Linked DNA regions of Homo sapiens: regions 1 and 3 are each linked to region 2. The links come from fine-mapping of genetic effects on gene expression. A gene starts in region 2. Each other region holds a variant in brackets. All regions are shown on one strand. Distances are between the middles of the regions.

The links.
Region 1: its variant is fine-mapped to the expression of CHST3 in minor salivary gland (GTEx, PIP 0.97).
Region 3: its variant is fine-mapped to the expression of CHST3 in lymphoblastoid cells (GEUVADIS, PIP 0.95).

The regions. Positions count from the first base shown.
Region 1 is chr10:72,036,813-72,039,568 of GRCh38, forward strand. No RefSeq gene overlaps it. Among named protein-coding and RNA genes, the nearest start is that of SPOCK2, 50 kb to the right of the region's middle. The variant T/C (reference allele first, on the strand shown) is at 1,351.
Region 2 is chr10:71,962,897-71,965,652 of GRCh38, forward strand. CHST3 (carbohydrate sulfotransferase 3) reads left to right here and starts at 1,499. Exons shown (of 3, transcript NM_004273.5): 1 at 1,499-1,798.
Region 3 is chr10:71,984,270-71,987,025 of GRCh38, forward strand. The region is part of intron 1 of CHST3 (carbohydrate sulfotransferase 3); the gene reads left to right. Among named protein-coding and RNA genes, the nearest start is that of CHST3, 21 kb to the left of the region's middle. RefSeq lists enhancers at 699-748, 809-878. The variant C/T (reference allele first, on the strand shown) is at 1,449.

The DNA of each region.
Region 1 (2,756 bases), 74 kb after region 2:
CACTCTGTGGCTCAGGCTGGAGTGCAGTGGCACGATCTCGGCTCACTGCAAGCTCCACCTCCCGGGTTCATGCCATTCTCCTGCCTCAGCCTCCCAAGTAGCTGGGACTACAGGTGCCCACCACCATACCTGGCTAATTTTTTTGTGTTTTTAGTAGAGACGGGGTTTCACCATGTTAGCCAGGATGGTCTCGATCTCCTGACCTCGTGATCCGCCCGCCTCAGCCTCCCAAAGTGCTGGGATTACAAGCGTGAGCCACTGCGCCCGGCTGAAATATTTTTAAGTGAAAAATGAAAATTGCAAAACAACACATACAGTATAAATAATTTATATGAAAACAAACTGCTATACATTCTCTAAACATACTGATGTGCAGGGAAAGGTCTAGAAAGATATATTTTACATGGGTTATAGCGGTTACCCGAAGGGGCTGAAGGGGTGACCAAGGAGGATTTTCACCCTCCGGAGCCCTTCCCCCAGGCGCAGCGAGCCTATCCAGGCGCCCAGACCCCACAAAAGGAATGGAATTTCTAATCCCAGGGCTAGGGCCAGGTTGTACCACTGGCACTCAGAGTGGGAATCCTGTGTGGCTTGTAAATAACTAACTTCCTGGCCACTGATAGTAAAACTGCCACAGTCACCTTTTATTAACCACCCACCAAGGGCAAGGCACGGCCCGGCATCTCCCTCACAGCAACAAGGTGAGTATTATAAGCATGGAATTGACCGTCAAGAACTGCAGGGTCTGAGTTTCACCCTGCTTTTAGGCTAGCAAGGTAGCCTGCCATGGTTTCATGGATGCTGGCAGAAGACGCAAGACTCCTGGGACCCAGACAAAGGGCTTTATTGCTCAAACACAACAGGCAACAGGAGTTCATGTTCGCCTTGGTTCCCCTTGTCTCGTGGGGCAGATTTGGAGGTGGGCCCATGTTCAGTGGGTTTAGCTGAAGAACCCCAAACCTGGAAAACTCCCAGTCTTAGGAGGGGGCTTCCAGCAAACTTGCCCAATCTTTGCCCTGATGGGAAGCATTGTTTTTATTCCCCTGGAAAGCAAACAAATAAATCTTCCCTCTTCCCTGGAGGGAGACGCCAAAATCGCTAAGCCAAAGGGAAGAATCAAGCTGGGAACTAAGTCAAGCAGGTCCTTAACCTGGGAACTGAGTAGTGCAAACCTGCCTCCCAAGACAAAGCTACATACCTCCCTCACAATTTGCCTACAAGGAAATTCCTTGTCCTCCCTCACAATTTGCCTACAAGGAAATTCCTTGTGGACAAAGGACAGACAGAGTTCAGAGTCATCCCTCTGCTCACAGGAGACAAATGCAGGTCTGATTATTTCCTCTGCCCTAT[T/C]GTTTCACTAAGCCAGACTACGGCACAAGTAGCTATTCCTGTAAATTGGGTATTCAGTGAAAAGCTAATCAGAAACTCAAAAGAATGCAACCTTTTGTCTCTTATCCACCCTATGACCTGGAAGCCCCCTCCTTGCTTTGAGTTGTCCCACCTTTCCAGACTCAGCCAATATACATCTTACATACATTGACTGATGTCTCATGTTTTCCTAAAATGTATAAAACCAAGCTGTGCCCCGACTACCTTGGGCATGTGTCCTCAGGACCTCCTGAGGACGCATCCTTAACCGTGGCAAAATAAATTTTCTAAATTGATTGGGACTTGTCTCAGCTACTCTGTGTACACTTCCTAGGCTGTTGACTACACAAACGTCCTTGAAAAGATAATCCAGAACAAAAGCTGTCACAAGACAAGCAGGAATGCAAGGGGCCCTGGAGAACGATCTCCCAGCGTCAACAGACTGGGGAAGGGAGGCGCTCAGAAGTTGAGTCACTTCTAAAGGTCACACAGCCAGGACACACCTGACCCCAAAGCCCTTGTCTTTCCCTCCTGCCTCCAAAATGGGCTGCTGGTCTAGCCTGGGAACCAAACACCCACACGCAAGATTGCTTCCAAGTGAGTGTCCATGGTGTCATGGTTATCACGGTCACCTAGCAATATTGCTTCCACGGGAAAATCCGCTCTGAGTTCTGAACAACGACTTGTAGCAGAATCGTGGGCACAGGGCCTGTCTGTGGCTTGTGGAGCAGGCGCCGCCCAGATGTGCCTGATGCTGGGATCGAGTCATCCCAGAAGAAAAAATTCCTCCCTGGCTGCCCCTGGGTGATGTCAGAGGAGCTGGAAAGAAGAAATGAGCTTCTGGAGGTGGGATAAATGCTCTTTTCTTTTGCAGAAGGAAAAAAAAAGGTCACGTTGTTCCATATTTATTTAAATATGAAATTTATTTATAGAGCAAAAAGAGTTGGTGTTGACTTCCAGCACCCGGCCGGGAAGTGGTTTGGCCTTGTTTTTGTCTCCTCAGAGCACCCTGTCCCCTGGTGACCTAATGTGATTTTTCAGAGTTGGAGGCTAGACCCTGTCCCCAGGCTTTCAGACCTCCCTGGTCCCACCCAGTCTCTGGAGCCCATCCATCCCCGCCTGGAGAATGGCAGGTTGGGGCTCAAGCTTGGCACTGGGCTCCTCTGTCACTCAGTCCTCATCTGCAAAATGGAGGCGCGCACATCTGCCTCATGCCGCCCTCGCAGATAAAAAGCAGTCAAATAGTAAGCCAAGCAGCTTCTCACTTGGTAAATTGCTAATATGTGCATCTGTATTTATAGAGAAGGGAGCTGAGGTTTCAAGGCTTCCCTATCTGTAGTCAGCCACTGTCCCATAGTAGCCTTTGAAGAAGGTACGTCCCTGTCACA
Region 2 (2,756 bases):
GCCCTGGAGCTTATAAAATGAGGGGTTCATATGGGGGAGAGAGACCCTGGGGTTGTCGGTTAACTTTACCACATATCATCTCGTGACCGCTTACAATATAGGAATTTAGAAGAGGGTGTAACTTAAGTTTATCCACATTTCTCGTGACCTTCCCCATGCTGCCTGTTGGGCTGTAAGCAAGTCTGGTGACCTTGCTGTAGCACCTAGATAAGGGTCCAGGAATGCAGCTTCGGAGTATTCAGGGTAAGGGTCAGCTGCATTGTGTGTGGGGCGGGGGGTTCCTGGGGCAACTTGTCCCTAACAGGGTCAGGATTAGTTCTATCTGGTTCTCTATTTGCTGTCCATCTGTAAATGCTGAGAATGGCAGAGGGAGGCCAAGTGTAGATAATCAGGTTTTAGCTTTTTTGGATTTTCCTACTTCTCCTGTACAGGAAATAACTTATTGTCTAAACCCCATACTATCCCATTAAATGTCAGGAGTGCTGTCTTAGGCCTGAATTAGCTCATGACGTTACGTACTGGAAGTCCCAGGAGGAATGCCCAGCAAGTGGAATCCAAGACGTTCTCGCCTTCTCGGGGACAGGGCCATCACCAGGATTCGGAAAGGAACAGGGAGGTTCGGTTTGTGTTCCAGTTCTGAGCCCTTTACCTCATCCCTCGAGAAGCTGGCCTTTGCACCCCGCAGCCGGTGCTGCCCAGCCGACCACGCCATGCACGGGAGGCGACTGGGACCCCACTTGCCTGGCAGCCCGGCCGGAGACCCAGCTGCCTGGGAGGGTCCGAAGATAATGCCAGGCAGCCCTGGCGGGCCGGGAAGACCCTCTGTCCCTCCCGTTTCCCAGTTCTTGAATTAGGGGAGCCTTGGACTGGCTGGCGGCGCAGGAAAGTGCAGGAGGGCGGATGTGGGACCTGCTGCCGCCCAGGGAGACGGTGCTCTGTTCTTTGGAACCAGGGAAACCGTCCTCCAGCCCACTTGCCCCAGGGGGGAGCAGGAAGATCCTCTCCGGGCAGAGATGATGGGGAACCCGTGCAGCCAGAGGGTCTCCCTGGCAAAGGTCGGGGGAGGGGGCGGCCGTAACGGCCCCGGGCGCTCCGGCACGGAGAAGCCAAGGGGGTTCTCCAAGCAGCCTCCACCCACCAGCCTCGCCAGGAGAGCGTGGATACCCGAGCGGCCCCAAGCGAGTCCCCGGGGACTGGAGGGCCGAGGGGCAGCGCCCGGAACAAAGGCCCGCAGAGGGGTCCTGGAGACAGCGGCTCCCCGGGGGCGGCTCCCCTCTCTCCCCTCTCTCCCCTCCTCTCCTCTCCCGCCAGCTCCTCCTTCTCCTCCCCTTCCTCCCCCAGAGGCCCGGCCGGCTCGCGGCCCGAGCAGCGCCAACTTCGCCAACGGTTCCCAAGTTGCCGGGCGCGCAGGGGTGGGAGCTGGGTGGGGTGAGGAAGAGGAGGAGGAGGAGGAGAAGGGCTCCCGGACGCCTTGGACGCGGTTCAGGAATCCGCCGCCGCTAGCCGGCTCGGGCCTGAGCGGGGAGGGCGCCAGGCAGGACCTCTCGCAGGCTCGCTGCGCAGGACGGCGCCCGCCTGGCGCCGCTTCCCTTCCAGCGTGCCGACCGGCCCCGCAGCGCCTCCATCCCTCCGGCCCGCCCCGGAGAAGACGCACAGCTCGGGCCGCGCGGGCGCCGGGGCCGCGGAACCGCTTCTGCCGGGATCTTCCAGGAGGAAAGCGAAGTTGCGAGCGGATGCTGCCCGCGCCGGACCCCAGCCGCGGAGGGTCGGGGCCGCCGGTGGAGTCTCGGCGGCCGGGGTAAGTGGGGCGCCGGCGTCCTGGAACCGCCGCCCAGCCCGGGGGAGGCCGCCCAGCCGGGAGCCCCCGCCTTCCGCGTCCAGGCGCGCGCGCCAGACTTTGGAGGGAGAAGGGGGCGAAGCGGACGGTGGGAGGTGGAGTTCCCAGCTCGGGGAAAAGCCCAGGCAGGCACCCACAACCCGCTGCAACCGGATCACACCTGCCAGGTACACACAGCTCATCGCCACTCATACCCCGCACACGGCGCAGGCTGATCTGCGCACACCCACACCGGCCAGGCACATGCCACACACCGAAATGCACATTCCTGGGAGCGCGGGGGATTTGGCCTCTACAGCAGGCACGTCCTCACACCCCTCCGTCACATCCACGGCCTTTGTCTGCTGCCCCCGCAGCCCCCAAGGAGAGGGAGCCCCCAAAGCGCAGCGGGCAGGAGAGAGGCTGCCTGGGTTTTGAAAACTTGTGGCCAGAACCCCGAGACCAAGGGGAGCAGATGTTGCAGTCGGTTCTCGGAGTTCTGCAGGAGCGAATTTGGTGTGGAAACTCGGTGTCTGGGTGATGTGTGAGTGTGCGAAGCCCTTCCGGAGGCGAGGCCCGGAGAGAGGAGGGAGTGATTCATAAACTCAGAGCCGGCGTGCCAGGGTCTGTGAGCAGCGTGGAAGAGGCTGGCAGGCCGTTGCTGCGCTAGACAGAAGGGTAGTGGCCGTGACAGTCTTCCAGGGAAGCAGGGACCCTTCCCCCCAGCGGATGTGCTTCCTCCAGGGACTTCCAAGGGAACCGGGTGAGCAGATTCCAGTCCTGGGTGTGGACGGGGTAAGGGGAGGTGGGGGGATTTAAGCCTAAAAGGTTAGGGAGAAACCAAGGCAGGCCTGACGCCTTCATTATTTTCCTTGCACCTGAAGTTGTGTTTGGTTTCTGATGCGTGGTGTTGCTGGGCCCCAGGATGTACGGGGGATTG
Region 3 (2,756 bases), 21 kb after region 2:
GCCTCAGCCTCCCAAAGTGCTGAGATTACAGGCGTGAGCCACCATGCTCGGCTGACGGCCTTTTGAGCTCCTGTGCTCGGGCCGCCCCACGCTGTGGAGCGCACTTTCTCAGTAAATCCCTTCATCCCTTCCTTGCTTTGTGCGTTTTGTCTAACTCTGTGTTCAAGACACCAAGAACCTGGACACCCTCCACCTTTAACACAAAGCCACACCACAAGTTGGTGACAGGTCCTGAAAGATCAGTTCCTGACTAGGACTCTGATCTGTCCACTGCTGTACAGCTGCTCCCTTCTGGCTAAATCAGCTTGCTCAGACACAGAGCATAGTGGTTGAATTTGTGGACTGTGGAGCCAGGCTTCCTGTGTTCCGATCCCAGCTCTGCCTTTAACTCAGGGTAAGTTTTCTCATCCCCTTGCCTTTGATGGGGATGGTGACTATTATCCATAAGCATTATCCAGGGTTCTTCCAAAGATTAAGTACATTTATGTACATGAAGTACTTGGAACAATTCCTTGTTCACTGTGTTAACTTCTGTTACTATTCAGCTCCTCTAGGGCAGGGGCTGTGTCTTTTCCTTCCTGTTCCTAGTGCCTGGTTCCATGCTTGGCCCAGAGCAAGTCCTCAGCAAATGAATATACTTGTTTCATGTGAGCTTTTGTCACTCAGAGATTCTTTAGGTACTTTCCCAAAAGCTTGCACTCTTACAAATTTCCATCTTAGTTCTTCAAATCTTTCTTCTCCTCCTTCCTGCCGCAGAATTGCCATAGAGCAGCCTGAAGCTTGCTCTGCCCCTTGCAAAGTCCAGTGAGCCGTTCAAAGATAACCCAGATGTCCCAAGCCTCCCAGCCAGAGTGCCTGTGCTGCGCAGCTGGCGTGGTTGCCCCAGTCTCCTTCGCCCCAAGGCCATGCTTGGCCGACCCCCTGACCCGCTGAGGTTGCGCAGAGCTTTTTGGGCCCTGTAGCAGCACTGCTTGGGCACCAAGCCTTGCATGGTCTCATGGGACTCACTGCCTGCAGCCGCTAGTCCCAGCTCCCCTCCTTACCAGAACCCACACCATGTTGTCCAGCTGATGGGGGATCACATATCATGCTATTCCCTCCAGGATCCTGTCCCCTGTTTTTCTCCCCCTGCCATGAGGAGTAGCATCCTCATTTAGCCTTTCCCTCAGAAAGTCCCCACGCTTATCACTACACATGAATAGATCCCAGGAAGGTCACTTTCTCATGGTTCTGCAAAAAGCCAAACTCCAGTTGAGGTCCAGTTTGAACCCAACTAGTTCACTCCTCTGCCCTAGAAAGGCCATTTCTGCTCAATCTTACTGCCCCACCTCTACTTCCAACTTGCAAAGATCTCTTGAAACCCTGCCTCCTGTTGTGGGAGCTAGTTTTCTTTTCTTTTTTTTCCTTTTCATTACACAGTTTCATTTTGACATAACAGTAGATTCACA[C/T]GCAATTTTAATAAATTGTACAGAGAGGTCTCATGAATCTGTTACCCACTTCCCCCTATGGTAACATTCTGTGAAAGCCTAGCCTAATGTCACAATCAGAATGTTGACTTCATACAGAATCCCCTGTGGTGCCCTTTTATAACTACACTCACTTCCCTCCTGCCCCCACCCCTTCCTTGACCCTTGGCAATACTAGTCTGTTCTCCATTCTTACAGTTTTGTCATTTCAGGAATGTTCTATAAATGGAATTATGCAGTGTGTAACCTTTTGTGATTGGCTGTTTTCACTCAGCACAGTTCCCTGGAAATTCATCCAAGTTATTGTATGTGTATCAGTGTTGTTTTTTTTTACTAAGTAGGTAAAACAAGGGACACAGACCTGTTCTCCTGGCATCCCTCCCTGGTTAGCAAGAGATTCAGCAGGCCGCTGCCACTCTGGCCTTGCTGATAGCTAGTGTGTGTGCAGGCAGCAGCTCCCGCTGTCTGTAAGAGCGCCAGGGTAGTGAAGTTGGGTGCTCTAAAAGTAGTGGCTCTCCATCTTTGCTGATTCTAGGTTAGAATCACCTAAGGAGCTTTAAGTAATCTTGATGCCCAGGCCACACCAATGCAATCTGAATCTGGAGGTGGCACCCAGGCCTCAGTGATTTGTAAACTTCTCTGGATGATTCTTATGCTGTCAGAGTTGAAAACCAGTCCTCTAAAACAGCCGCAGCAGATTCACAATAGCTGTGCCATCCTCCACCCATGATAGATGTCACAGAGCAATCGCAGCACTCGTATTTTCAAATACGGCGCTCCAGGCAGCCCCTTCCCATCTGTCAGCTTTGGCCCGGGGTGGAAATTGACTTGCCCTCTTAGCTGAGAAACCGTTTGGCCATGGCCATGTCCAGGTGTGCCCAGGCCCGAGGCCTGACATGTTAGGTGAGTGTCCCTGTAAGTAATGCTGGAAAGGTGGGCCCTTGACCGATAGGAATAGTTGCAGCAGGCAGAGATCGCCTGGGGCTGGTTCTATAAGATAAACCCGAAGTGGATCAGCCAGTGTCCCTCCCCTGCAGCCCAGCATGGGGAGAGATGTACCCAAGAAATACCAACCAACAGTGCCATTGGCATAGACGGGCTCTGGCTGACATTTGTTCAGACCAGCAATAATGCCCAGCCTGTGTGCAATCTTCCCAATTTTCGGAGCTCACACAGCTTCCTTGATGCTCACAACAACCCTGTGGGGCCAGCCTAAGCTCAGAGAAGTTAAATTCCTCACCCAACGTCAGCAGAGAGTAAGTGGGAGAGCTGGGACCCACTCCAAGTCTG